Regions from separate parts of the Homo sapiens genome. Here all the other regions are linked to region 1. The links come from fine-mapping of genetic effects on gene expression. A gene starts in region 1. Each other region holds a variant in brackets. All regions are shown on one strand. Distances are from middle to middle.

What was found.
Region 2: its variant is fine-mapped to the expression of MTMR1 in fibroblasts (GTEx, PIP above 0.99). The same link has a PIP of 0.9 or more in unexposed skin.
Region 3: its variant is fine-mapped to the expression of MTMR1 in T cells (TOPMed, PIP 0.93).
Region 4: its variant is fine-mapped to the expression of MTMR1 in whole blood (TOPMed, PIP 0.95).
Region 5: its variant is fine-mapped to the expression of MTMR1 in cerebellum (GTEx, PIP 0.95).
Region 6: its variant is fine-mapped to the expression of MTMR1 in tibial nerve (GTEx, PIP 0.97). The same link has a PIP of 0.9 or more in pancreas.

What each region holds. Positions count from the first base shown.
Region 1 is chrX:150,691,274-150,696,349 of GRCh38, reverse strand. It overlaps MTMR1 (myotubularin related protein 1), which reads right to left and starts at 2,954. Exons shown (of 16, transcript NM_001306144.3): 1 at 2,674-2,954. The coding sequence starts at 2,819. RefSeq lists enhancers at 1,411-1,490, 1,511-1,610 and silencers at 2,504-2,643, 2,954-3,023.
Region 2 is chrX:150,756,532-150,761,607 of GRCh38, reverse strand. All of the region lies in intron 15 of MTMR1 (myotubularin related protein 1), which reads right to left. Among named protein-coding and RNA genes, the nearest start is that of MTMR1, 66 kb to the right of the region's middle. The variant T/C (reference allele first, on the strand shown) is at 2,463.
Region 3 is chrX:150,642,111-150,647,186 of GRCh38, reverse strand. It overlaps MTM1 (myotubularin 1), which reads right to left. Exons shown (of 15, transcript NM_000252.3): 9 at 1,316-1,504. Among named protein-coding and RNA genes, the nearest start is that of MTMR1, 49 kb to the left of the region's middle. The variant G/A (reference allele first, on the strand shown) is at 2,211.
Region 4 is chrX:150,591,771-150,596,846 of GRCh38, reverse strand. It overlaps MTM1 (myotubularin 1), which reads right to left. Exons shown (of 15, transcript NM_000252.3): 2 at 4,170-4,242; 3 at 277-349. The coding sequence starts at 4,232. Among named protein-coding and RNA genes, the nearest start is that of MTM1, 26 kb to the right of the region's middle. The variant T/C (reference allele first, on the strand shown) is at 2,149.
Region 5 is chrX:150,729,315-150,734,390 of GRCh38, reverse strand. MTMR1 (myotubularin related protein 1) reads right to left here. Exons shown (of 16, transcript NM_001306144.3): 7 at 4,181-4,282; 8 at 3,783-3,866; 9 at 2,772-2,921; 10 at 1,661-1,849. Among named protein-coding and RNA genes, the nearest start is that of MTMR1, 38 kb to the right of the region's middle. The variant A/C (reference allele first, on the strand shown) is at 2,488.
Region 6 is chrX:150,746,514-150,751,589 of GRCh38, reverse strand. MTMR1 (myotubularin related protein 1) reads right to left here. Exons shown (of 16, transcript NM_001306144.3): 14 at 747-860. Among named protein-coding and RNA genes, the nearest start is that of MTMR1, 56 kb to the right of the region's middle. The variant G/A (reference allele first, on the strand shown) is at 3,045.

The sequences.
Region 1 (5,076 bases):
CCCATAGAGCCAGGTTCCATTCTAGAGGTCACTCTTCAAAGAAAAGTGTGAATCTGAGCTTGTTGAGCTGACAGAACTGAGAAAGGAGGCCATGATTCCTCCCCCATCCCTTCTCTGTAGTCTGTGCAATTGCCCTCTATACTCCTGGTGTCAATAACTACTTACAGGCTGGAGGCTCCCAGCTCTGTTTCTCCAACCTGGACTCTCCTGATCTCAATGCTGATGTTCCTACAAGACCTGTCCACTAGTCTGGCCCAGAGACCCTGCCAATTCAACCTGTCTAAACCAGCATCAGCCGCTCAGCCCCGCAACCTACTCTGCTCCTGTGTTTCCTAACTCAGGGCGCAGCACAGCCAGTTATCCGGCCCCCACACGCTAGAAAGCTGAGGTTTGCCTTGGAGTCCACCCGGCACTCCCCCCTCACATCTGAATGCTCACCATGTCGGGTCACTCTTACCTGGTAAGCATCTTGAAAATCCACCCAGCCCTATTCCTAGCCCAATTCCCTTTTCCAGACCTCCATCATTCTTCTGTGAACTCCACCTGCCTCATGAATTTAAGCCTCATCTATAAGCCCATGACTCCCCAGTTTGAATCTCCAGCCCAGACAACCCTGAACTCCAGGCTCAGATAGATCAACTATATCTTTGACATCTATTCTGGGACATATAATTGGCATCTCAAAATTGATATGTCCAGAGCGAAGAGCCTGCTATTTTCTAACCCTGCTCCACCTTAGAAAGACTTCTCCATCTCAGCAACACAATTTTCCCACAAGCTAAAATTTTGGAATTCTCCCAGATTCTTCTCTCATACCAACCAACCAATCTTCAGCAAACCCCATTGGCTCTACCCTGCAGGTCTTCAAATTACATGTAGTATCTGACCACTTCTCCCCTCCTCCGCTCCACTCTGGACCACCATCTCACTTGGCTTACTACAATAGCCTCCTACTGACAGTCTCTGCTTCAGCTCCTTCCCCTTTCACTCTATTGTCCACATAGCACCATGGAGAGCCTACTGAAATCTACAACAGATGATGTCACTCCTCTGCACAAAGTCCCCAGTGGCTCCCCATGGCCTCTGAGGCTCTCCACCATCTGGCTCTGTGACTTCTCTAACGTCATCCCTTACTTGTCTCTCCCTAGCTCCCTCCCTGCTAGTGACACCTAGTCTCCTCGCTGATCTAGGAACACTTGGCTCACATTCACCTCAGGGGCTTTGCACAGGCCTCTGACTAGAATACTATCACCCCCAGGTATCTGTATGGCTGGATCCCTCGCCTCTTTGGGGGCATTACTCAAATGTCAGCTTTCTCAGGCTTTCCCTGATCATCAAAATCTCTGAAGGAAACCAGAAGATGAGGCATATTTGGGGGTGACACATTCTGGTCTCCTTTGGCTTCTTAAATGATTCTGATGCATGCCCATCCTGAGTACTTCTGTGTTCGCCTCTACCACCTATCTCATTTATCACATTCGATTTCCACTGTTGGTTGGTTTGTATTCTCCACTAGATGGTAAGTCTAGCAAAATGGTAAGGCAGCAAAAGCCGTGTTGTGCTATTCTCTGAATCGCCCAGACCTCGTGTGTGGTTGAATATTTGCAGATGAGTGAAGTCCTCACCATTTCAAGTGCTGTCTTAGCTGTGACTGGTTTTCAGTGACACTAACCACTTGGGTGATTAATTTATTAAAATATATTGTAATTACACTGAGGTAGAAACAAAAGTGAAGGGAATGTTTCTTGTTTCTGTGCTTTTGGAAACTCCCAAAAGTTTGGCACAATGGGATGACCAAGACAGGCAGGAATGGGCATGTAAAACTGACTGAGCTACATTCCAACAGTGCATGCTGCCTGAGTGCACTCTGGTGTCAGGGAAATGGCCAAGTTGTGGGAAAACTGGATGTTCCGGGTTACACGATAGGCCATCTCTTGTCGTCGGAGGAGGCGGTGGCCCCTCCCAGTTCGACACGGTCACTTTATGTTTCTAACTGATTTCTCTTAGTTCTGCAGCTGCCTCAGAAGCAGTAGGCTTGCTTGTGTGTTCATGAAAACAATAAACTGGTTCCCTCAAAGTGTGAAGAACTGAAAGTAAATGGTTCTGTTTTCTTGCCTCCTGAGCAGTTTGGACGTTTTCCATCTCAGATTTTTGCCTCGATCTGCACCAGCTCCCACGCCCGCGGGGTCCCATCTCCCCGTCCTCACTCCCAACCCCCCATCAAAGACCCTAAGCAGCCACAGCAGAATTGGGGTCTTAAAACCACACGAGGCAAGGTGATGCTAGAAGAGGAGAGCCCGGGTGGGATCTCCCTCCCAAGAGGATTGGTGGCCTGGGCAGGGACAGCCAAGCGATCGCCAAGGGCAGCAGGTGGCGGCGCCGGAAGTGGTTTGACAGCTGCGAAGCCCCTCCCGGGGTTCCAGGAGCTGGGGCTCTCGGGGCGGAAGTGAGCCAGGTGCGCGGCCCGCAGCAGGTCCGAGGGCAGCAGTCCCCGGATGGGGCGCTGAGGTTTCCGGGGGTGGGGGGGAGGAGGGCCCAGAGGGGATGAAGAGGGGCCGCCCACCCCGCCACCGCCAGGCCCTGCGCAGCGCGCGGGGAGGGGGCGGGCTGGCCTCGCGCGGGGCCCTCGGGAGTCGGGGCGCGGGAGGCCGGGGCAGCCCGGGCCCCGCTTACCTGTCCAGGGTCTCCACGCTGGGCTGCCGGGAGCCGGCGGTGGCGCCCCCCGCGGCCCGAGGAGGCCTCCTGCCGCCCGCCGGCCCCGGGTTCGGGCCCCCGCCGCCCTCGCAGCCCGCCGCCGCCGCCGCCGCCGGCCTGTCCATGGCGCGCCGAGTCCTGCCGCCTTGGGGAAGCCGCCGTCGGGACGGGAGCGGCGGCCGGGAAGGTTTCGCTGCTTGCCTCCTGCCGCCCGCTCTATACCGCCCGCCCGCCTCAGGCGGCCGCCGCCATTAGCTGTCACCTGGCGGCCCCGCGTTACCCACAAGGCCGCGCGCGCGGGGGTCGGGGGGCGGGAGCGGGGGCGGGGAGGGCGGCGCGCGGGGCCGGCGCCGGGAACCCCCACCTCGCCCAGCCCCACCTGGGCGCTCGCCCACGGAGCCTTACAGCGGGGATCTGGGACCTCCTGCTCCAGCGACCTGGGTGCGTACAGAGCCACTGGGGTTCGGAATCCCCAAACGGATTATGCGTAGCGTGCTTCACTCTATAGTCACACCGGGTTGACTGCAGAGACGTGGGGTGTAAAAAGAAGTTTGAAGACATTCAAGTATCAAAAATGATTTCCCACCTCAGTTGTCCTTCCCGGAAAAGGTATAGAACAGCTCAAGCTCCCTCGGTCTTGACATCTTGAAGCAGGAGCAATTCCGTGCATTTTAGCAATTCCTCCCCACCCCATTCTTCCCTCCACTCTCCCCCTCCATACGCACCCCGCCGCCCCGCCACAAACCCACCCCCTTGCCATCTGTAGGGCAACCAAGTGTTCTGATGCCGCCCTCGGAGCTTCCGCCCATGGTTTATGTTAAGAGTAACATTTAACTTCTGTTGATTAAAAAATCACTGCTATGAACATCAAGCCAATATCTTGGTGAGGCATTTAGGACATTTGCTTTCTGGGCTAGATTTATTTCCTTGCTCATTTTGTTTGGGTTCGAATATCCAACAGCTCATCCCCTCTCACCTCACCCCTGATTAAGTTGGGAGTGGGTGTGTGGCTCGTGATTAAGCCTCTTTGCCTGTGATTGCTCTGGGTGTAGACAGGAGGCCTGCGACCCAGGTCTGGAAAAGAAGATATAAAGGGAACAATTTGCTCACTGTTAAAAGGCAGATCTGCAGACAGGGAGTTACTCATGCCCATCCCAGACCCATCCTGCCCCACCAGCTTAATAACTTCAAACTGAACTTTGAGGATATGATGCCTGAAGCCCCGACAGCCATCTTACGCACAAGAGGAGGTGAGCCTGGGGTAAGAAGATGACAGAGTGAGGAGGGCTAGGAGGAAGGAAAGGAAGATCCCCAGACAATAATAGCTCCTATCTCACACTGGAGAATCACCGACTGCAGGTTGCTGGCTTTCTAAAATTATTAAATCAAATGGTTAACCCACTGTTATGGACTGAATGTTTTCATCCCCCTGAAGTCCATATGTTGAAGCCCTAATTCCCTGTGTGATGGTATTTGGAGATGGGGTCTTTGAGAGGCAATTAGGTCATGAGGGCCAAGCTCTAGTCTGATGGAACTGGTGCTTTTTAAGAAGGGTCACCAGAGAGCTTGATCTCATGCACTCACATGCACACACTGAGAAAAGGCCGTGTGAGTACACAGCAAGAAGGTGGCCATCTGCAAGCCAGGAACAGAGCCCTTACTAGGTCCCTGCTGGACACTTAATCTTGGACTTTCCAGCCTCCAGAGTTGTGAGAAAATTTCTGTTGTTTAAGCCACCCAGTCTATGGTATTTTGTTTTGGCAGCCTAAGCACACTAAGACACCCACTTTTAGTTGGGTATTTTGTTACAAGTAGCTGCAAGCATCTTAGCTGTGCTGAGAATTGTCAGAAAGAAAACAGTGCAACTTTAAGCATATTTTAAGTACCATATTCTTTAAGAAACATTAGGCCAAAGAGGAATTCACTGTGACACTGTCATACTTCCAATTCAGTTAAGTACACTTAGGATTTAGAGGACAGAGATGAATCTGACATATCCCTGCCTAAGATGTTCACAATCCAGTGAAGGGGACAGACAAATTAACAATGACATTACAAGTTGGCAAGTGCTATAATGGGGACAATTGCACAGGATGTGGAACACCTACCCCAATCCATAGGAGAAGAGGAGGTCAGGAAAACTTCCCCAAAAAGGTGACATAAAACTGAATCTTTAAAGATGAGTAAATCCTTGATGAGGCAAAGGAGTCAAGTTATTCCAGGCAGAAGGCACAGTTATGGGCAAAGGTGTGGATTAGTAGGTATATTAATCTGTTTTGCTTTGCTGTAAAGGAATACCAGAGACCTGGTAATTTATAAAGAAAAGAAGTTTATTTTGGCTCACAGTTCTGCAGACCGTACAAGAAGCATTGTGCTGGCATC
Region 2 (5,076 bases), 65 kb before region 1:
AGCCTCAGCCAGGCCATGTGACTGGCCACTTAACACCTTCCAGGGACTTCTTCCCCCTGCCCTGAGAGGGGCCTCGAGGCCCTCTGCAGTCTGGCCCCAGCCTGGCCCTCTGGCTCATCTTTCACCAGGTCCTTCCCCCACTCCCTCAAAGACTGAGCTGTTCCACCGTGTGTGCCAATGGTGATCAGCCCTCCTGGAGGGAAGGGGGAGACGGAAGGAGGATGAGAGCGAGACCGCAAGGGGGCAGCCAGGTCCCTCTAATAACAAGGTGCTCAGTAACCAGCACCCAGTGGGCTGAGAAGAAATGACCCCCTTGGGCAGGCCACAGGAAGAACAGAGGGGACAGGAGTGGAGTGTGATGGCAAAGGCAGATCCCACAGGCCTCTGGGAGGTGGCACCAGCTCCTCTCTTACCCTTAGGACCCATCTGGCATGCGTTTTCCTGTCTGTAGGATCATTTAATTCTGATCAGACAAGGGACGCCTTGCAATCAAGTTCCCATTATCCATCTACAGGCATGTGACCTCAGCAAGAAGCAAGACACGCAGGGAAATACACCACTGACACACACCCAGGGCAGACCCAGCACTGCTCAAACGCACCACTATCATCTCTTCACCAGCTGTTTGCATCTTTTCTCACCTATTTCTTTTCTTTTTCTTTTTTTTTTTTTTTTTGAGGCGGAATGCAGTCTCACTCTCTCCCCCAGGCTGGAGTGCAGCGGCACGATCTCAGCTCACTGCAACCTCCGCCTCCCGAATTCAAGCGATTCTCCTGCCTCAGCCTCCTGAGCAGCTGGGATTACAGGCGCCCGCCACCACTGTGTCTGGCTAATTTTTGTATTTTTAATAGAGATGAGGTTTCACTATGTTGGCCAGGCTAGTCTCGAACTCCTGATCTCAAGTGATCTGCCCGCCTTGGCCTCCCAAACTGCTGGGATTACAGGCGTGAGCCACCGCGCCTGGCCTACTCACATATTTTCATTTGCAACAAATCAAGGGCATGCCTGAAGGAATAGAAAACTCGGAGGCTTAAACAGAGGATTGTGTTAGAGAAAATTCCCATCTAAGGGCCAGTCATGTTTGCCGCATGGGTACTAGCATCACAAGACATAAGGCAAGACAGTCCCAAAGGAAATAGGACGCCCCTGGGCCTTCCACACCCAGCCATCCTCTGATGGATGCCCAAAGAACCCCTTTCTCGGCAGCCAATCGAGCCACTGCCTTCTCAGAGAAAAGAGGCCCAACAGGCTTGCATCTGCCCTGTCGTTTACCCCCCTGCACTCCCTCCCCTCCCCTCTCTTCCTCCTTCTCTCTGCCTCACCTGGCTCCTCAGGCCCTGTCACTGGACACCCACACCAGCCACTGATCTCTGCCTGTCTTCAATGCACTCCCCCACCCCCATTCCCACACCTAGGAGGTGTCCGACACATGCCTGTTGCATACAGGATAACAAGCTGCGGCCCATGTACTCTTTTTTGGTTCTCTCTTCTGTGTAGCACAATGGAGGGAGAATGCAAAAAGCAGGACCACACACCTACTACCCTCCGAGCACAGTGCACTTGGAATGGATTCACTTCCTGCTCAGCAACCCCCTGTGAGGTCCCCGTGAGGCTCAGGACCCTGCTGCAGATCAGGCGGTGAGTCACTGCCAGAGACGGGATCTGGCCCTGTCGGGGGCATCCTTCCACAACTACACGCACTGGGCAGCAAGATTTCAACCAAGTCACTGCTTCTCTGACCCTTCCCTCATTCTCTACGTCGTGGAATTGCTGGGAGCGTTAACTGGGATCATGTGTGTACAGAACCCACTGGCACACAAGAGGACTGCAGGTTATAGGCGCTGTCGCTGTGGTTTCCATCATCATCATGATGTTGCAGGTGGCTTCGCCTACATGAGTGAGAACCTGACCACATCTGGGAACAGATCTGTCGCGCAGTTTGTAGGTTTTAGGAAAGGTCTGTTACCTGCCTCACGCGGCGGGCAAGAATCTGAGCCTGGGTGCACCCCTGTGGGACACCACTCTAACCCTCTCTGCTGGTTCAGCATTTCTTCACCTCTGCAACCTGCTGCACAAGGGGGAGCGTGGCAGGGGTACGGGGGTCTCCTGCAGTAATCGAGAGGCTCTGTTTAGCCAAAGGCACTCCAGATCAGGCATGGTTCTGTTGGATTTTCTGCTAATGTTCATGACACTCCACCAACCACCCGGGCCTTTGAGTCACCAAGAATATCACCTGGTAACCCTATGTGATTTCAGTAACATAGTGACTTCTGACACTCTGTAGCCCATCTTCCCTGTTGCCAAAATAGATGAAATAGAAGCCACCCAGGACAGAATAACTCAGCAAGATGCCTAAGTAGAAATACACATCAGTGAAGAGGAAGGTGCTGGAAGGGGGATGTAGGCTTTGGTTCCCAAGTTGACCACTGACTGGAAAGAAGTGCTTGATGGGCCCCTGTGTT[T/C]AGCATCTCAAATAATGCACCTGAAGTCAGAAAGGAGGACAGTGCTGGACCTGGACTCCAGTGACAGGGCAGCAGGTCACCCTGCACATAGACTTCTTGGGCTGAAAGCCAGGAAAGAAGATGCTAATGGGACCAGCAACCTCTCACGCTCACTCATAGTTCCTGGGCACATGGACCATTTCAAAGACAGCTCGCCTTCAAACTCAGTTCTCATCTGGGGAAGGATTCAATCTAGTGACAAGCAGTTATTAGATTAATAACTTAAAGATCAATTAATAACAAGCAGGGACATGTCTTGCAGAGCACAAAGTCTAAAGGGAGAGATAAATGTAATTTTTTTTTTTTTTTTTGAGACGGAGTCTCACTCTGTCGCCCAGGCTGGAATGCAGTGGTGCAATCTCATCTCAGCTCACTACAACCTCCGCCTCCCAGGTTCAAGCGATTCTTCTGCCTCGGCCTCCTGAGTAGCTGGGATTATAGGCGTGCACCACCACACCTGGCTAATTTTTGTATTTTTAGTAGAGACAGGGTTTTGCCATGTTGGTCAGGCTGGTCTCAAACTTCTGCCTCGTGATCTGCCCACCTCGGCCTCCCAAAGTGCTAGGATTACAGGCGTAAGTTACTGTGCCCGGCCAGAAATGTAAATTTTTTTAAAAAGAGGAAGAAGGAAGCTAAGTTGATGCCAGGAGCTCAGGTGGTGGCCAAGTGGCAGAGGGCGTGGGGAGCTGGAGCCATCGGGCAGCCACAGAAGGTGATGTCTGGGCTGTTAGGCAGGAGCAAAAGGCCTCTCTGGAGGAAGGTGGAGCGTGGACACAAGGCAGACTGAGGCGGGGAGAGTAGGTAGAAAGCTGTCCCAATATCCCAGAGGACTGGGTGTGGAGGGGAGACCTGAGGGAGAGGCCAGTGGGGACAGGACAGGTTTAGGGTGGGCAGGTGTGAGTCCTCTGTAGGCTGAGGGGCAAGAGCCACCACAGGGAGAAGGAATAAATGCAGGTTCAAGGGGCTGGAGAGAGCAGATGTGCAGGGGGAACTGGCCTGCAGCAGAGGGGCGCACCTCTTCATTCACTCATGCGTTCATTCAGTCACATCTGTCGAGTCTCCGTTAGTTGCCAAACACCATGCTAGATCCTGAGGGCCCTGTGGTTTCAAAGCCTGTGGTGTGTAGGGGCAGCAGGCAGGCAAACAGGCCGGTGCAGTATCGAGTGTCTTGGGGAATTCTACAGACTGATTATTAGCAGCGCCTCCACTCTCTTTCTCAAAGTACGCTAGTTTGGGCAATCAACATAGGGCCGCCAGAGCACTAGGTGAGCAGGGAAGAGGGCGCTCAACGGGAAAGGCTCCAGGGCAGCACAAGTCCCAGCAGCTCCCTGGCTAGTGGGAGAGGGACACAGATGCAAGTCTCTCCTATCCAAGGAAGACTCTGGGAAGAGCTGAAAGAGGTGATCAAACACTAGTTGTTTTCATACATGTGAAGACACAAAGGGCGGCTCATTCACACGGGGGATCTGCTTCAAGCAGGGGCAGGGCGTGTACAGGGGAGATGTGGCTAAGGGCACCCTAGGATGCAGGAGCACCCCTGCAGCCAGGACTCCTTCCCAACTCCCCAGGCCCAGCGTACAAGTACTAGGCTGAATGAGCACCCATCACAGTGTTCTGGAAAACACTCCTGAGGTCGTAAGGGTGGCAGGGCCAACTCAGAGGGTCCAGAGGAGAAAAGCATTTGCAGTGGAAGCTTTGTGGAACAAAATAGAAAGCCATCTAGGAAAGAAGAGGCAAGTGATGACTAGCCTGGTCTGTGGTAGAGGGCAAAGGATCCAGTGAGGAGTGGCCAAGCAGCGGCCTGGGGCAGCGGGGCGCACCCAGCAGATGGAGCATGGAGCTAAGGCCACCAGTGAGGGAGCTTTCCAGCTGGCAGGCCGGGGTACTATAGTGACGTATCCTTGAGGTTCCAGGGCCAGGCAGCTGAAAAGGAACATGAGCAGTTCAGACTGCCCCATGGCTAGTGGAGTGTGGAGACGATCTAGAGATCATGAAGACCCTAGGTGAGAGGGATGAGGGAGCAGGAGGATGGAGAGGAAGGCAGATTTCTGTATCATTGGCTGACAGAGCAATGCTATTAAACAATGCCCTGGGTACACGCTCCTGATGGACTGCAGTTAAACTCTGAGAGTATTCAAGTCAAAAGAAAAATCTCAGGCCTGGCGCAGTGGTGCACACCCATAATCCCAGCACTTTGGGAGGCCGAGGCGGGCGGATCACTTGAGGTCAGGAGTTTGAGACCAGCCAGGCCAACATGGTGAAATCCCGTCTCTACTAAAAATACAAAAATTAGCCAGGCATGGTGCTGTACACCTGTAATCCCAGCTACTTGGGAGGCCAGAGCAGGAGAATCACTTGAGCCTGGGAGGCAGGGGTTGCAGTGAGCCAAGCTCATGCCACTGCACTCCAGCCTGGGTGACGAGCAAGACTCCGTCTCAAAAAATAAATAAATAAAAAAGAAAAAAGTCTCAGCAGACAGTTATCTGTCCATGGAGGTACAGGCTGCCTCTATCTGTCTTCTTCACCACCCAGAACCAACCATGCCCTGGCCACCCATGTGGAGACTGGGGGTGCG
Region 3 (5,076 bases), 49 kb after region 1:
AAATATATATGAAAGATAATAGGTACACAGATATATAAAATTAAGGACAATCCAAGAAGATATTTAGAGTTAGATTTAATTTCCTGAGTGTTTCACTTACGATTCCTAATTTACTTGTCAATTTAACTTACTGACTGCTTCACATATAATTTCAAAATCATCTCTGGACCAAAAAACAACCGTAGTAACAAATAGCTGGTTTAAAAGCATGCATGGGGATGGGGAGGTGGCCCAGGATTAAATGTGTAGGACAGAAGATCTGTGCACAAATAATGAAGAGTTGAGCTCTGCATGCATGCAGTCTGACACATCCTAGTCCAGACAGATATCACAGATTCTATTAGGAAGCTGCTGCACCTATCTGAGCTGCTCAAGAACTTGTTTTGCTTTCTGGTTCTTGTCTTATGTTCTGAATAATTGAAGATGCTAGACAAATAACCTCAGGATAAGCAATGTATTAAATATGATGAAATTTAAGCTTACAGCAGAGGAGAAACAATAAATCTGAAAGCTGGAATGGGAGTGAGCAATTTGGGGCAGGCCCCTCGTGAGCATTTGAAAGTGACAGCAATGATGGGAGGAGAAGGAAAAGAAAAACAACAAAAAGGAGAAATAGAACGTAAAATGCACATCAATCTGGGGCCATTTAGTAGAGCAAGCAAACAGCCATACACCTTGCAGCAGCTTCTGAAGGCAACACTATGCAGTCACTGATGTTCATGATGACCCTAATCAATTTTAAGTGCATTCAGCATATTCTGCTTACAGCAAAAAGTCAATTGAGACAGACTTCTTTGAAAACGGTCAACTTTGTGTATATGTTTGTGCCTGGAAAACTCACATACGTGGACCTACTCATTTCTTGAATTATCTTATGTAAATGAGAATACACATATGTGAGTATATACGGGTATGGGGGAGGGAGTGTTTGAGTAAGCATGCAAATTTAGTATTTTAATAATTACAGCTTCCCATAGCTTCTTACAGATGCCCCAATAGTGTACACAATGAGTGATCATCCACAGCTGAAAGGGCTTTAAAGAGAATCTAACTTTTTCCTGCCAAGGTCCTGGCCAAAACCCAATTTCATTACAGTCTAGACATGCCTATTTACCTAAAGTTTATTTGCATTTGATTTTGATATATTCAATTTTGTTTAAGTTTTGTGATTAAAACTACTTTCTGTCTAAGAGAACTGGTTTTCTTAACTATTAATTTAAACCCACGTGTTTCTATATCATGGCAAAAACATTCACAGAAAACACTGCACTCCATATGTAAGCTAAGTGTCCAGCACATCATTAAGTCCACTCACCTTGTTGGCCACTGCATTTACGCTGGGTCTTGCATCATAAATGGTGAGTTTAGAAATTTGTTTATTAGTCTCCCTGATAACATCGAGATATTTCTCATCATCTTTATTTCGTTTCCCACTCATACCGACAAGAGGCTGACTGCAACGCACAATGACCGTCTTATTTTCTGGATGAATCCATGACAGCACCTATGGTTAAGTCAGAAAGTTTAAGCTATCAAGAAAGCAAATCTCCAAGCAAACAATTAAAACTGTAAAACAGTAAAGCACTGACGGTTATCAAGAAGTGAATCTGATTGTGCTAAAATAGAATACTTGTTCACTTGCAATCTCACTGCGTGTGTGTGCCCAGAGACATGCATTTAATAATATAACTCAGAAACAAGTACAATTACCAGTCTTTTCTTAATTAGCACCACATCCAATATAAATTAATTGCTTACCTAAAAATAGTTATATCACTTAAAGGAAATTGAAAGCTTGATCCTATTTTAATTATGTAGCTTGCACTGGATTTGTTATCATATAGAAGCAGCTTTGGCAAAAAGTGAGAGGTAAAGGAAATTGTCTCTGGTACAATATGTTTCTCATAATACCAACTCTGTCTACAGATCATTTTCCCAACAGTCTCAATTCTAGAATCTAACACAGGAAGGAAGAAAACCTGAGCAGAGCAAAACTGATCTCAGGACAGCCCAAAGAGCATAGATCTGCTCGTCTCCACAGTGCAGTGTGGACATCCAATGCCTAGGAGACCTCATCAAGCCCTGATTCAGAACCTATCTTCTCTAACTTTATACACAAGTCTAGCACATTTGCTCCCTGGTTGCCAAGCTCATAGCATGTGAAAAGTAATACACGTAAAAGGTAGCTAATAATGTAATATACCAAAAAC[G/A]ACAGAATTGTACACTTGAGATGGGAAATTGTTTGGTATGTGAAGTAGATCTCAATAAAGCTATTAAAAATGGGAAGCTGGAGAACTGCAGCACAGTGGGCGACAATGTGGACTTTGGGGTCTAGTGCCATCTCTGCCGTGGTTCTAACCTCAGGCATTTCACTCGCAGCTTCTCTGGCTTCCCTTTCCTCTTCCATAAAATGGGGAGAATAATATAATCTCATAGGGTTGCTCGGTGGCCTGAAGAAGAATGCCCAGAAAGTCTGCAATAAACACTGGCTCGTGTTAGCTTATAGAGGCAGGCCCAGCAGCCAGGAAAGTCAGTTAGCAAAAACTACAAAATGCAGATACAAAGAACGAAAGAAGCTTAATCATGTGGGCTCACTCAACATAACACCAAATTCCCTGATGTCTCTGAAGTTACCTACCCCATGATGGCAAATGACAAACATTGATGTTTATAAAAATGAGTGTTTATAATGACAACAGGTTATTGAGAAAAGATTATACAGTAATATTTATTCATTCTCAGAACAAATATGGTCCTTGCACCATGCTAGAGATCAATTAAAAACACCATTGTAGCCCCTGCCTAATAAGAGTCCAAAGGCTCAGAACTGGGAGCCTTGGAGAAGGTACCAGTGGGACCTAAACCTCCACCTTCCAATCTATAATGCACAGCACATATGAGATCTGCCTTCCTTTCCCTCTATGGCCCTGGTATCAAGAGAGACAAGAGACATGAGACCACTTTAAAGGAGCAATTTGCTACACATTTAAAAGATTTATTATTTGAGAAATTATTAAAATATTTTTTAATATTTTTTATTATTTTAATAATTTGAGAAATTATTAAAAATAAAAATTATTTATTATTGAGAAAGACCCTCATCAAGTTGTAAATTTCAGTCGGGCCATAGGCAATGGCCTCCCGACCCCTATTCTCTTTGTGGTGCCATGTTAGGAAATGCTACTCCTCTGAGTTGTTTCTCCTCTTAATTTCTTTGCAGGAGGGGGGATTCTTACTACTTTTTGAAAAGGATGCTTATTACAGAGCTAAACAGGTACAAATAATGTTCATTTCACAGTGTCAACTACCATGAGTGCTTTTACAGTATATGGCACTGTATTATTCTTATTAAAATTCATATCTAGAAGCCATAGATAATTAAGTACACAAATATCTAACCACTGAAAGATGTTTATTACAGCATTACTTACAATAGCAAAAGATTAAGCAGAAGCTGAATGTCTCACAATGGAAAACTGATTAAATCATGGTACATCTACACACTGGCATATGAGCGGATCATATTTAGCAACATGGGAAGTTGTTTACAAGATATTGCTAGATAAAGACACAAATTATAGAATAATTTCTATAGACTGAGACACAAATTATAGAATAATTTCACTTTTTTCAAATATATATACATATGTGTGTGTGTGTGTAGATATATGCTTAGAAGGAAGTCTGAAAGGATATATACCAACAGTGTTAACACTGGTTCTCACTAGGTGGCAGACTCCTTTTTGCTTATCAGTATTTTTTATAATGCTTAAAATGAACGTGCATTACTCATACATTAAAGACTCATAAAATTAAGAGAAATCTGTTTGAGAATAAGAGAATACATATCCATTAATGGAAACATTTAATGCACATTGATTATTTCTCTACCCAGCAATATTTTATTATAGTTTATATCTTATTTACATGCAAAATAAGATCTCTTTCATGTCACTTCCTTTTGTATTTTTACATGAGGTTTTATAAAAAGAACCAACTATCAGATATTAATGATTTCACATTAAAGGCACATATGTTTTCTGGGTGGAAGCAAAGCTCTGAGACTTAGCCAACAGCCGGGTGGTTAGAAAGCATACTGCAAAGAACATATTACCACGCTTAATAGTACCTAATAGTAAATCTATAAATATGTAGAGGTGATGGGGAACTTAGTCTTCCCTATAAAAGCCATTTTAGAAAAAATAAATACAAATTGGTGGCCATGATAAAGTAAGAAGGATCAATAACATGACTAAATAAAAAGTTAAGAAATTCTATCTGCTCTACAGTAGACACTCATTCATTCAGAATAATGGGGACTACTGGATCAAGATGGCAACCAAGCATGGTAGAAAGGGCACAGTTGTTCAATTTTCTCTGTTTCAAATCCCATAGAATTCACCCACATACACAAATGACACGGTAGATGCTCAATAAATATGAACTGAATGAATACATGAACAAAACTGAGCCAGGCTACCCTAGCCCAGTTGTCCTTGTGAGCAAGGCATGCATTAGCAAGACAGACAGCCAGCCAGGGTAGGGGTGTAGTCTGTGGCTATGGTACAGAAGAGCATGTCCAAACAGAGCACAGGAAGACTGAACTTGTAACCCTAGCTTCATTAGCATCATGTTCTAACAACATGAGCTAAAGAACATACTTTCAAGTACAATTTATATCGCGAAGATATGAACAGACACTACTAACTGGAGAAGCAAGTGAATTAAAAAAATCATTACATAAAGCATTTATTAATTTTAATGGGTAAAATAGTAGTGCTATAGTGGAAAAACATGACAGACACTGCCTTAGCAGAATAATCACAGTTAACATCACTAATAACGGGACAAATCAACAGCATGTCTCCTAAGGTGGTGCACTGAGAACACAGCATCACTTCTGCGGTTTTATGGCTAGAAGTGTATAACAAGTGAATTAAAAAAAATTACAATTCATATTAGGCTGACAATACAAAAGTTTTGCACAAATATCCTTTTAAGGAAAAAAAATGTCTAGACTTGAAAAAGGCAAGGTGACATTAAGTCTTAATTTCTTCAACCTTTGTTTTTAAACAT
Region 4 (5,076 bases), 100 kb after region 1:
ATGAGAGACTTTCAAGAGATAATCCACATTTTTTTCCCCTAAATCATTCTCAGTCTTTGGTACAGACACAAGAATATCACTACCCTTGTGAGCATGAAGCTCTCAAAAGAACTCTTTAATCAAGAAAGGGATGCAGAGAGTTCTGTGTTAACGCTTCTAAACAAAGGTAGCCTATTTGTCTAAGCCTGACTGCTAAAGAGTAAGCGGGACTGAAGCCACCTGATCCTGCCAGACTTCTCCTCAAGTTATGCAAATCTTATGTCAGCAGGTCCTTACCAGTGATTAGTGTTTCTCCTGGAAGTCGAGGAACAGCCTCAGTGAGATCTCGATTGACTCCATCTCGAGACGTCTAGAAACAAAACAGATGCATCAGAAGTAATGACGTTACATTTACACACTGTTTTTAAGCAACTAGGAATACAAGCCACTAGAAATATGTTTTTTAAAGAAAAAGCATTAGAGATTTAGCATTTGGGAAAACTGGCACAAAAATTCAAACAAAAAAGTTACAATCTGGCACCAACATTAATTAGATGTGTCAACTTCTAGTATTAAATAATGCTAGCATGCTTTTCAATAATATTAATTTTTAAACTACATTTCCAAGCACTTTAAAGTTAACAGCTTTCGGGAAAGTGATAAAAAGTAAACATTAAGTGTGTTCTATAGATACACATACACTGTAGCAGCTTTCTTTTTTTCATATTCAGCCATCTTTTGGGAAGAGTAGGAAGGAAAACTTCAATTCCACAGAGGCTTAACTGAATAACAGCACAGCCATTAGCCAGAATCCTATTACAATGCCCGAAAATCATTGATTACCTATTGCGTTTCCTATTTCACTAAGACCCTTCCTCTCTTTTTACTTCCTCACATTTACTAAGATCCCTGTCCTAATAAGAGGTAAGAGTGGTCTGTCAGAGAACTTTTGAGCTGGCAAAAGTCTTAGGAGCCATTTGTACAAATTCTTCACATCACTTTACTATTTCTCTAGGCTTCCTGGCTTTAGAGGTATTCCCAAGCATGTGCCTCATTCAATCACTTCCACAGCTCTGCTAGGTGGGCACAGTAATATTAACCACTACAACCTGCAGGCGAGTTCGCAGAGCCTAATTTGCCATAGCTACCCATTGTCTTTCAGGTTATTCAGCTGCCCTAGTGGATTAATACGAAGATGTGTTGCAGGTGCTAGTCTGATGACATTTGAGGCACATCACTAACATCTGTTTGGGCAAAAAGTTTTTTTCAGCAGTATTTCATTTTTTTCTATTTGTTGTCCAAAATCACACTGCAATCATTTCATAAGTGAAGTTACTCATGCTTCCGTTAGAGCAGTTTTGTGAGTATTAAGTGAAAAAATATATATACAAGCACACTTTTATTTTTTGAGACAGTCTTGCTCTGTTGCCAGGCAACAGTGGTGCAATCTTGGCTTACTGCAACGTCTGCCTCCCAGCTCCCAGGTTCAAGAGATTCTCATGCCTCGGTCTCCTGAGTAGCTGGGACTACAGGTGTGTGCCACCACGCCCAGCTAATTTTTGCATTTTGAGTAGAGACGGGGTTTCACCATGTTGGCCAGGCTGGTCTTGAACTCCTGGCCTCAAGTGATCTGCCTGCCTTGACCTTCCAAAGTGCTGGGATTACAGGTGTGAGCTACTGTGCACACTTCTGTAAATTATCAGAGGCTATGCAAATGGAGAGAATTATTATGAAACAAGAGAAATGTGAATTGTATATTCAGGTGAGATATAAGCTGTCAAAGAGGGGTGTTATGCTGAATCTTTAATGTTTTTTTTTTTCATTCAGAGGCAAGAATGAAAATTCCTAGCCAATTTAAAAAATTTTCTAGTACTTGCAAGCTAAACATTTTAACCAGCTGGGCAAGACAAACTGTTCTCAGCCAGGAATGCCTTCCTCAATGAGAAGCAAAACCACACACCTTATATAAATTGTAAGAGAGGAAAGAAATTATCACCCTTTAACACTCCCTCTCACTAACTAAAAACAGGCATAACGAGCAAATGCAATACTCAGTATACCTTTTAAATACCACAGTTCTAGGTCAACCACAAAATAAGGGAAGTGAATGTCTGATTAAAACAGGATAACATGGGATTAACATAGGCTATACATTATACCAGAGCAGCA[T/C]TACACAAAGGATTTATAGTTACATTCTTGAAATTACTCCTGTGTTTAGAACTGATTCTGGTAACATAAAAATACTTAAATACAATAAAAACATATAATCTTGGAGATGAGGATGGTCCTTGTAGGCACCCAAAACAGAAAATATAGATTGATATATGTGATCACATAAAAACTTTAAACTTCAGTATTTCAAAATCAAAATACCATAAATACAATTAAAAGGCCAACAATAAATCAGGAAGAAGACTTGTAACATATTATAGAGCTGATTATCAAAATATAAGGAACAAGCCAGGTGTGGTGGTCCATGCCTGTAATCCCAGCAATTTGGGAGGCTAAGGCAGGTGGATAGCTTGAGGCCAGGAGTTCAAGACCAGCATGGCCAACATGGTGAAACCCCAACTCTACTAAAAATACAAAAATTAGCCAGGTGTGATGGTGCACACCTGTAATCCCAGCTACTCGGGAGGCTGAGGCACGAGAATCACTTGAACCCAAGAGGCAGAGGTTGCAGTGAGCCAGGATTGCACCACTGCACTCCAGCCTGAGGGACAGAGTTAGACTCTGTCTCAAAAAAAAATTATACACACACATACACATATACACACACACACGGAACACATAATCAATAAGAACTCCCCTCAAAATCCCCAAAAGCCAAATAAAGGACATGAACAATCACTTCACAAGAGAAATGCAAACTAATAACAAACACACTTTTATTTACTTATTTGAGACAGGATCTCACTCTGTCGCCCAGGCTGGAGTGCAGTGGTGAGATCTCGGCTCACTGCAACCTCTGCCTCCCAGGCTCAAACAATCTCCCACCTCAGCCTCCTGAGTAGTTGGAACTATGGGCGCACGCCATCACACTCGGCTAATTTTTTGTATCTTTGGTAGAGACAGGGTTTCACTATGTTGCCTAGGCCAGTCTCGAACTCTTGAGCTCAAGTGATCCTCCCACCTTGGCCTCCTAAAGTGCTAGGATTACAAGCATGAGCCACCTCACCTGACCATAAACACACTTTTTTAAAAAAGGTTAACCTCATTAGTAATCAAGAAATACCAATGAAAAGATCACCTTTTGCTCCCTTCTGATTGCTTAGGCATCTCTATCCACCTGGTGGGAGTATAAATTAGCCTTTCTGGTGGATAATCTTAGGGCCTTAAAGGGCCATGAATAAAGCTTATTTTAAATTAATCCCTTCCTTTGAATGCACATTCCAAAATCTCCCTCTAATTACACAATCTCCCCCTGGATACCTTGAACCATTTTCTGTTAAAGTTGTATTTGTTTTGGTTATGCAACAATTTTATCATAATTAGAAAATAATGCCAATAATTAGGAAGGCGTAGCAGCCTGCTCAGCAGGCCTTAGCCTTCCAGTATGTCCTTCAGCAACCTTTCCAGGTGGAGGATTGCCTAGTACCTTAAACATGAGGTCTAGCAGTAATTTCACGAGACAGAGGTTTTCAAAAATGAAGTTATGTGAAAGGATTTACAAATGTAAAACTCACTTAACACATATAAGGTATTGTATCTAAAAGCTTTTCTGGGCCGGCGTGGTAGCTCACTCCTGTAAATCCCAGCACTTTGGGAGGCCGAGGCAAGTGGATCACCTGAGGTCAGGAGTTCAAGACAAGCCTGGCCAACATGGCGAAACCCCGTCTCTACTAAAAATACAAAAATTAGCCGGGTGTGGTAGCACACGCCTGTAATCCCAGCTACTAGGGAGGCTGAGGCAGGAGAATCACTTGAATCTGGGAGGCGGAGGTTGCAGTGAGCTGAGATCTTGCCACTGCACTCCAACCTGGGCTACGGAGCGAGACTCTGTCTCCAAAAAAAAAAAAAAGCTTTTCTAGAACAAGGTGAGACAATAAAGAAACCACATGTATAAATGTATTTATATGTGAATGAATAATAAAATTCATAATTCAATAGGCCAGCCCAAAATGACCTAATATTCAAATATCAAAATAAATGCAAGGAAAGAGACAGATAAATCTGAAAATTCAACTTACCCTCTTAATAGACTCATTCTCCAAGGAGTGTGAATTATATTTAGAAGTTGATGCAGAAGCCATCCTGGAAACTCTACCAAGAAACACAACATTCAATATCAACTGAATTTGTATGCAATTTCAAACATATGTGACATCTGAGACTTAAATATGGCAACTGAGAGCAAACGGTACTACTTTACAGGTTCTATTTCCATACTAGGCCCCAGTGGTAATAAGACATACAAACGATGAACCAGAGCACAGGCAGTATGTGAGAGCTCCAATAAAGGTGCAGGGGACTAGGGGAGAACAGACAAGGGGAGCTAAATGCACAAGGGGGAGCTCAGCAGAAGACGCCATACACATTCCAGGAATTTTAATTCGTAGTGCTCTAATTGCCATCTAAAAAAACTTAATGTTTATTAATTGTGCAACAGGCCTCAAATTTCCATACTCCTTATTTTTTAAAGATAATTTAGAGGCAGCCGAGCAGAATGAAAAAAGAATGGACAATTTAACTCACACTATTTTCTCTATTAAGAATTTTGTTTTCTCCAAATGATGGCAGTTTAGAGTGGCATGGATTTGACTGAAATCAAATTGGTAAGATTTGATTTAATCAGTATTTTCTAGGGAAAGTATATACTTCATTTAAATAATGCATATTCATCACAATTCAGGCATAAATGAAAGCATTCTATTCAGAACATACACAAATACCATTTTAACGCAAGGATTTATTTAGACTTAAGAAGATTACAGCAACAACAGAACACTAAGTAATGCTTTGGTTATTTTATCAAAGTTTAGGACACAGATAGATACATATAAAGTCAGCGGGAGGTAAACCACATCCAATTCAACAAGGTGACTGTGGATATTTATAAATATCTTTTTGCCAGGCTGTATTAAGAGCAACCAGACA
Region 5 (5,076 bases), 38 kb before region 1:
TCGAATCCCTGGCAATGGTGAATGTGACCTTATTTGAAGAGAAGGTCTTTGCAGATGTTTAAGGATCCTGAGATTTGCAGATGTGTTTAAGGATTCCAAGATTAATTGAAAAGAGGGTCTTTGCAGATGTGTTTAAGGATCCAGGATTATTTCAGGTGGAACCTAAATGTCATCACAAGTGTCATTAGAAGAGAAAGGAGGAGACGCAGAAACCCAGAGCAAGAGAGGGTCATGTGATGACGGAAGAAGAGATTGGAGTGATGTGGCTGCAAGCCCAGGAAGGCTGGGGCAGCCACCCCATGCTGGAAGAGGCAAGGAACAGATTCTCCCCTTGAACCTTTAGAGGGAGCAGAATTGGCCTCCAGAATTGTGATCAATACATTTCTGGTGCTGTAAGCCAACAAATTGGTAGTAATTTGTATGACAGCCTCAGAAAACTAATACTTCCCCATCTTCCTCCCTGCCCTGTTCCTCTCCCAGTCTTCCCCATCTCAGTAACAGACACCACTATTCACCCTCAAGTCAGACACCTGGGCAACACCCTTGACCACAGGGGTGGCGAGCTTATCAGCATCATGTACTGTGCCCTGAGGATGCACTCACCACTGTGCTAAGTCATTTACATGCATTCTTCTCACTGAATTTTAATCCTCACACAACCCATGACATGAGACACTGATATTATCTCCTGTTTTACAGAAGAGGAACCTGAGGCACAGAGAGAGGTTAAGTAACCGGCTCAGGATTCTAGAGCACCAAGTGGCAGAACCTGGAGGAAAACCCAGGTGTAACTGATTCCAAAGCCAAGGGGTCTCACCAACTTGCCATCGTGCCTCTCAGGCCAGTTGGAATATACGGAGGGTTTGTGGTCTGGGAAACAGCCAAGCAGAGATGTCAACCATACAATGGGATAGAAATCCAGTCTCAACCTTAGGAGGGATCAGGACAGGAGAGAAACTGCAGTGTCAAGCTCAAGTTGAACTCAGCATACAGACAGTGTTTAAAGCCGTGTCATCAGAGATGGCCCCAGGAGTCTGTGTAGAGCAAAGAGGACCCCAGACCAAGTTCGAGGAGCAATGCCATTTGAAGACTGGGAAGAGAAATCAGTGAAGGAGATGGAGAAGGCCAGGCTGAAGAGCGAGAGAAACTCAGGGTGTGATATCATGAAAGTCATGGGAACGGAGGTGTTTTTAACCATGTCTCACTGCCACCCGAGGTACACTACACAGGTGCTCCATGAGATTTATGGAAACTTTGTACATTTACACATTTCACATGGCTGATTCCATTCTAAAAGAAATTCAGACCAGACATGAATTAATCAACTAACCACTATATTCCTTAAACGGACTTCCAAGGACCTCACGATCATTTCATTAAAATGCTAAATCCTTTAGATGATAATTGTCTTTCTAGGTCTTTACTTAATTGATTTAGCAGACAGGATATTGTAGAGAAGCAATGAAACAGACAAGATCCCAACCCATGTGAGACACCAAACACAGCCCAAGGAGCATACACCAGGGAGGAATAGCTATGGGACTCCAAATGATTCTAACTTCAGGTGGTGAGGAAATCAATGAGTTATTCCAACTGCATAATGATTTACAGACAGGACATGAAAATATCCAGTGTTTCTGCAGTGCTATTAAGAATATACCTTGTTGGTATCAGCGACACTGTTTTGTCGAGCATCAAAGATGATAAGCTTGTGTGACTGTGCGTTAGCATCCATTATTGTTTGCAAGTATTTTTCATCCTCTTTGCAGCGCTTATCATTGGGACCCACAAGTGGCTGGCTGCAACGGGTAATCGTTGCTTGACTTTCCGGATGAATCCATGACAACACCTAGTGTTTTTAAGCAATAAATATTAGTACAGTTCCTAAAGAATGTATGCTCTAATTACCTGGTAGGAAAAACAAGTTCCCTTCTCAAGCACGGTCTCTTATACATATTTTCTTCAAAAGTGAGAGTGGGCAGGCCAATCACAGCATTGTAGTGGCCATCAGACTCAATGTTTTGGTCAGGATGAAACAATTCTGACTACATGAGCTCTAAAAATCCCCTTCCATCCCCAATATTCTATGATTCTAAGAAAAACAAATCCTAAATCAAACTATTACTAAAATCTAGCCCCATTCCAATTTGATTGACTAATTTTACCTTGTCTCCTAATTTTAAAAACATCTTTGTATCTCAACAATAATATACGTGGCAGGGTAAGGACAAAGTGAATATACAGTCTCTTATAAAATCTGACACTCTGCCACCCCACCTCTCATTTTCCTCCAGTGGCCAAGTGACTCAGGATTACAACAGATGCAAACTCTGGGCTCAAACCATTACTCCCAGCTGTCTGCTACTACTTCTGTAATGATGTCCCTCCCACGCAGCTATGGCATCATGCTCAGTATCTAAGAAAGAAGCATTTTCTCTAGGATGATTCAGTGAAACCAGCAATGCCAACTGGTAATACAATAGCATG[A/C]TAACTTGTTGTTGCTACTCCTTTGTCATTCTCTACTACTTTTTGAGGGTATGACTGAAGTTCCCCTTATACTTAGTTATAGGAAATCGTAAAAGAGGGAGTCATAGCAAACAGATTGTTTATATAATTAGGTATTTGTTGAGAATCAAAGGTATGTTCAGGTTTATAAGCTTATTTTTCTGCTTTCCATTTTTGTTCACTAGTTTCTTTTTTGTCTTAAATCTCTCCATATTAGATCTAACGCAATATATATTCCTATATAAATGACAATGTTTATTACTTACAGGGACTCTGCCTTTTGCTCGAAAAGCTGCCACTTTTGAAAGGTCATCATCTTTTACACTAGTTGGCACAACAATGATGGCAGGGTAGGTGTCACAGAACTCATAATTACTGTTTATTTTGGATATTTTCCAACTCTCATTTGGCAAGCCCTGTAAGGTGTTGGAGAAAGAAGAAGAGGGTGAAATGCATGACTTTACACTTTGAAAAAGTACTAAGCATGAAGTACATCCATTTCTTATTTGCAACTAAAATCCGTTTATAATTTATTGTTTATTGTAACTTAAAAGTCAATATATATATTTATTCGGTAAAACCCATTTCCTAGACATTTCTAAAAATCTAAAGAAGCATAAGAATATCCAAACCATACTAAAACATGAAAATTATACGCTAGAATCACATTTCTATATATTTCTTGTCCTATTTTCTATAAATAATGAGCTCTGTTATTTTTGAGAATATACTCAAAAGTCCTTTAGAAACACAGATACCTCTTACGAATGTCTAAAATAAGTAACGTAAAACATTATACCAAATATAAGGTAGAGACAACGTCATGAAACAAACGTCATGAAAATAAGATCTTAGTGGAATAATTTGAAGCTGACAATGCACTGAAGAGTTCCCAGACCCGGGAACACTGGATCAGACAGATGTAGTCACACCACATGCTTCGAATCTAACTGTAGTCAGTGGTTTGGATCCTTACTCATCAATTCTTTACCAGAACATCTAATAAAAACCATCTGGCAAATTTGGTTTTTAAACCCGTCCTTGTCCTTGAGTCCCACTCACCCTCTGGAAACAGGATGAACAAACATGACAAAGTCTAAGGTTTGGCACAGGGAGAAGAGAGAATCAAGGAAAGATGGAGAACCTATAAGCTAGCAGTTAAACCTGTGCATAACTTGTTCGAAAAAGTTTCTTCTCCACCACATCATTTCTAACCTTTTAGAAGAGAAAAAGATGCTCAACCTATTATTTTCAGTTTGATAAGCAATATACTTTACCTGTCTCTTATATTCAGATACTGGATCATAAACTTTCCAGCCATTAATTGGAAATTTTTCTTTATAGCTGAATGCAAATAGTGCCTGGACACAAAAACCACAAAACACATATGTTACTATTTCTTTTTATATCATATACCCAATATTAAAGCTTTTCATTCTAATATGAGCTGAGTGTATTAAGATTCCTATTTTAGTCTGTAAATTTTACAGCAACAAAGTAGCAGCTTTTCTTAAGCATTACCCAGAACTGACAAATTTCAAATATTCTAATATTAGTCACCAACAGAGGAAAAAAGAGAGGAAAAAAAAAAACCTCTGGAAAAAGGAATAATTAAACATAGGATATTTGGACCCCCACAAATGCATGCAGAAAAGGTTTACTCTGGTGTATTTACCTGTCCGTTAGAAAGAGGAAATGCATGTTTGTTGAGGTTTTCAAATATCCCTAGTTTACTCTGTTCTTCCTGTTTATAAGCAAGCCGCAAGTTCCTCATATCCTGTTAAACAATTAGCAAAACTCGGTTATTCAACATACATCAGGCACCTATAAGCCAGATACCGTGCCATAAATAAGGAAATTATTTTTTTTTAATTCATTTCTCCTTTTATACTTTATCCTGCTCCAACGGCACAGTCTCCACTCATTGCAACCTCCGCCTCCCTGGTTCAAGCAATTCTCCTGCCTCAGCCTCCCGAGTAGCTGGGATTACAGGCACCCACCACCACTACCGGCTAATTTTTGCATTTTTAGTAGAGACAAGGTTTCACTATGTTGGTCAGGCTGGTCTCAAACTCCTGACCTCACGTAATCCAACTGCCTCGGCCTTCCAAAGTGCTGGGATTACAGGCATGAGCCACTGCGCCTGGCCCCACTTATGTTTTCAAAGAAGGACTATACATACATTCTCATGTGCATAGGCTATCTGTGGAGGGTTACATTAGAAATCGGCCACAGTGGGTGCCTGAAATGAGTGGAACAGGGTGGCAGGGTGGTGGGTGGAAGGAGACTGATTTTTTACTATACACAGCTTTTGTATCTTTTGAATTGTATATCACCTGTTAAAAAATAAACCCCACACCTTGTAAAGCTCTTAGGCATGATCTGAGAAGGCTGGGAGCATTACCTTAGTAATCTAGGTTAGAGAACATTTAAAGCAGTTGTTAGCAAATGCTCACCCCAGCCATAAAAATATCTTAGTAAAAGAGCCCCAGGATGCCTGCCTAAGCAACATAATTTCCTGACATGCCCTCCCTCTAAGCTACATGGCTACACACATACACCTTGGTGGCT
Region 6 (5,076 bases), 55 kb before region 1:
CAGGGGAGGCCGAGGAGGCAGGAAAGAGGCAGGACCAGGTGGGGTCACAGAATGAGGGCACTGTCAACTGTGGGGAGGCTGCTGAGAGAGGGGGAGGCGGGCGTTACTGACAGACTGCTTTCTCCTGAATTCTATACTGTCCTAACATACTTGGCTCACAGGCATTGGTCCTTGTCTATTAACAGGATCATATACTCCTTAAGCTGCCTTTTTCCAATGCCTTCTCACTTTTGACCACGTTTCTCTTTTATCCCACACTGAGGGAAAAAGAAAGAAATGAGATGTAACTCTGAGAAGTTTGGTAACTGCTTCTTTACTACTTTGATGTAAAAAAGTGTTAGCTTGCTACCTAAAGTGGGCTTTTTGGCTAATCAGCAGACTCCATTTCCAAGGCCTTCAAGTATGATCTGGCCAACACCACAGAGGATGAAAAGCAGAATCCCACGGTTTTGGAGTTGGTGCAGCGGAGACTACATGAACTCGGAGTCAGGAGGTCCAGGGTCTAGCACTCATCTACTCCTGAGAGAGCCACGGGCTCGCTGGGTCCCAGCCCCCCATGCCTAGAAAGGAAGGGGCTTGTGTTAGACACATGCGGTGGGGCTGGCCAGAACCCTGGGAGGGCATTTACAGTCAGCAATAGCACCAGAGCGCAGTCCTCCCTCCCCTCAGCCCTCCTACAGTAGCACTTCCGAGGAGAGGTGCCTGAGCCACAGGGAAAGCAACAGACAAGGATGCAGCATACTCACCTCTTTGAATCGCTGCTGTTCACAGTTGCACAAAAAGGTCCCAAAAAGACAGCTATAAAGGTGATCCAAAATTGTAATCAAGAATAGCTCATTAAACTCGAATGCTGAAGGAAACTTAAATGAAGAGAAAAATAAGGTTTAGTCATAGAGTCCAATTTCTAAAAGTAATATTACTTTTTTATGAAAGACAGCGAAACTACAACTTGGAATATAGTCAAAGATTTAAAGGAAGACTGAGCCCATGTAAAGTTCAACTACCTACAGTTTTAGGTCCAAACTTATAGATCTGGCTGAGAAACAACCAGCAGCAACTAAATTTGTTGTACTCAATGCCCAGAAAAGCTTATGTAGCTTCCACTTCTCACCATGGCGGCAGGACAGAGCCCAGACTCACCCTTCTGTCAGAAACATCTAGCAAGCTGGATACAATATAAGAAATGACTGTTTTCAGACACTGGCAACAGGCAGTACTGGACTGTGACCCTGAGAGAAGGGAAACAAATGAGGGGAGCCCTCTATTGTGCCAGCTTCCCCGCTGCAGCCACATCCCAGGTCGGGGGTAAGGGGAGCAGTACATCCAGTCATAACATGTACCCAAAGTGACTCAAGAAGAATAGAAAATCCGAATAGCTCTGCATCTATTAAATAAACAACTCCTAGTTAAGAACCTTCCTACAAAGACAACTCCATGACCATACACCCCTGAATTTTTTTTTTTTGAGACGGAGTCTCTCTCTGTCCCCCAGGCTGGAGTGCAATAGCACCATGGCGCCATCTCGGCTCACTGCAACCTCCACCACCAGGGTTCAAGTGATTCTCCTGCCTCAGCCTCCTGAGTAGCTGGGATTACAGGTGCGCACCACCACGCCCGACTAATTTTTGTATTTTTAGTAGAGACGGGGTTTCACCATGTTGGCCAGGCTGGTCTCCAACTCCTGACCTCGTGATCCACTCGCCTCAGCCTCCCAAAGTGCTGGGATTACAGCACGCCTGACTTCTTACCAGTGTAAATGAGCAAGCTGAACCTGGCAATACATTTTAAAAAGGTAACACAACATGACCAAGTGGGGTTTACTTTACGAATGTAAGCCTGGCTTAACATATGAAAATCTATGTTACAAAACAAATCAATTACTGTAATTCACCATATTGGCAGAGTGAGGGAGCAAAACCACAGATCGTCTTGATTGTTTTAGGTAATTCTTGATGGGATTTTGCAGAATTCCAGTGAAGACTATTACTATTGCCAGCAGGTTCTAGCCAGTAGCTGGTGTGTTGTGGCCATGAGATGATCTGGAAGTGATAATAATTACCCTAACAGCAGGCATGTGCTGAGTGCCTACCATGCGCCAGAACTCTAATGTAAAAACACAGTAAAATATTCATCACCTACTCAATGAAGCAAAGCCAAATAGTACTACCCAGCATGCTTGTATTTAAGTTGGTTTACTTAAAAACCTATTCTTCAATCAGAGTGCTGTGTGCACACTATCATGACAAATCTTCACATCTCCAGAATGATCACATCAGGATCACTGGTAGAGAAGTTTATTTTTTAGTTTAGCTTTACTACTAGACTAGCACCAGGCTTTTCAATTAGAACAATGGTCAATCCAGGACTGTCCAAACTCCACCTGAAACTGTTTTCTTCACCAGGCTATTATATTAGCTGACTTAAGGAATTATGCTCAGATACCGTGGATTAAGATTTGCTTCTCTCTCCATCTTAAGGATTGCTCTCAGAAACACACAACTCTCCTCTAAGGAATCCCATCAGAATATTACTGCTTCAGAAACCTCTGGAAACTAATTCTGGTGGTTCTTACTGGCACCCTTGTTCTTAGATGAACTAAATCAATGATGTGATGTCTCTGGCTGAAATGCTAACAATATCTACTGGTTCATCCTTTCTTGGAGCCTTTAAGATTGCCCCTCGCAACTCTGACAGTGGCCTCACATTTCAAACGGCTATCTTTCTCTATTTCTCTCTCTCTCATTCATGCATTTATTTATTTAGATAGGGTCCCACTTTGTTGCCCAGGCTGGAGTGCAGTGGTGCGACTGTGGTTCACTGCAGCCTCAACGTCCCAGGCTCAAGTGATCCCTCCCACTTCAGCCTGCCAAGTAGCTGGGACTACTGCCACAACCCAGCTAGTTTTTTTTTGTTTTTTGTTTTTTGTTTTTTTTTTGTAAAGACAAGGTCTCCCTATGTTACCTAGGCTGGTCTTGAGCTCCTGATCTCAAGTGATCCTCCCATCTCGGCCTCCTAAAGTGCTGGGATTACAGGCATGAGCTACC[G/A]TGCCCGGCTCAAATAGCTATCTTTTAACAGGCCAGGCACACTATGTCCAATTTTCCCAGGACTTCTCTATGCTGCTTAGTTATGCCCTATTCATAAATTATTGGCACCACAGAATTTGTGAATTGTAAGCAAATATATGACATTTTTGTGTACTAAAGCTTTATTAAATCAAGGATAGGAATGAAAGATCCAGGGTTTTGTCCTATATTTTATAATTCTCAAACTTTTAAAAACAAATGTTTACTAAAAGATAGCAAATTATTGACATATTTTCAAGCCATATAAGTGCTATGAACTGAATATCTGTATCCCCCCAAAATTTCTATGTTGAAATTCTAATCCCCAAGGTGTAGTATGAGGAAGTGGGGCCTTTGGGAAGTGATCAGGTCATGAGGGTAGAGCTCTAGTGAATGGGATTAGTGCTCTTCTCAAAGAAGCCCAAGAGAGCTCTCTTGTTGCTTCCATGATGTCAGGTTACAATGAAAAGACAGCTAATCTATGAACCAGGAAGCAAGCCCTCACCAGACACTGAATCTGCTGGGGCCTTGATGTTGGATTTCCCAACCTCCAGAACTGTGAGAAAGAATTTCTGTTGTTTATAAACCACCTCATTTATGATATTTTGTTACAGCAGCCCAAACAGACTATGACAATGAGTCTTCATTCCTAGCCCCTGAGCCTGCATTGTAGATTTGGGAGCTTGGAAAGGTGTGTTCTAGAGTCAGTGACAACAAGCCTTATTCTGGTCACTGGGTACCAGATATGGGAGGTCAAAGTGGGCAGGGCTCAGTCCAAGCCCATTGGCACCCATGAAAACTGGAAAACAAAGGCTCCACCTACTCATGTTGGGTCAAGACTGCCATTTATACTCAGGGGGTGTCATGGCATTAAGCTCAACTCAAAAAACAGCTCATTGGAGGAAACAGTAGCAGGTGGAGTAATATAAACGAAAGATTAGGTCGCTGCAATTCATAGTTTGTTTTGGCCTCTTCTCCTGGAAACTGTACCTTTTACCTAAAAGTACGATTTCCGAAAATACATAGCACAGTAATCTATAATAAAATTCTGCACCTCCTTTTTTATTGTTTTAGAGACAGGGTCTCACTCTGTCACCCAGGCTGGAGTGCACTGGTACAATCATAGTTCACTGTAACCTTGAACTCCTGGACTCAAGCAATCCTCCTGCCTCAGCCGCCCGAGTAACTGGGACTACAGGTGCACACCACCATGCCTGGCTAATTTTTTAATTTTTTTTTTGAAGAGATGGGGTGTCTCACTATGTTGCCCAGGCTGGTCTTGAATTCCTGGCCTCAAGCGATCCTTCTACCTCAGCCTCCTGAGTCGCTGAGATTATAGGTGTGAGCCACCACACCTGGCCCCAATTCTGCACCTCTTGAGGAACAAAAATATCAATGACTATTAAACCTACCCAGAGGAGTAAGGATTGTATTAAACTATGGATATTATTGAGTGTCTTTGGGACTCTAAAGAGTCCCTCAATTATTTTTCCCTTAGTTTCTTTGTTCACATACAGACTAGTTCATTTTATTCTGATATTTCTGACAATTTTACACTGCATAGCTTACTTAACAGTAGGCAACCTAAAAATAATCTTTCCTATGACTGCATCTTATACCTGCTATATATCTCATTCATTTCTTAATGAACTGATAAAGACTAGTCATGGATGTCTGTGCTAATGCATTAACAATGTAATTTTAAAAGAAATTAATTATACACACATTTCACAGACAGAATCTTAGAGCTGTGAGAAGCATCTGAAATCTTCTAATTCAAACCCCTTTTCTTAAAATCCAATAAAAGCACAAAAATGACATGGCTTAGACATGAAAACAGGCACTAAGCAGTATAAAGAATGGAGGTCAGTTTGAAGATGTTTAAAAATCCACATTTGGGAGGAATAAGCTATTTCACATCCACCGAAATGGTGCTCATCCCTTTAGAAGCACTGCAATTATTTTTTGTGTTCAACCTTTTTATGCAATTTTTCTAAAATGTGTTTCATACTTT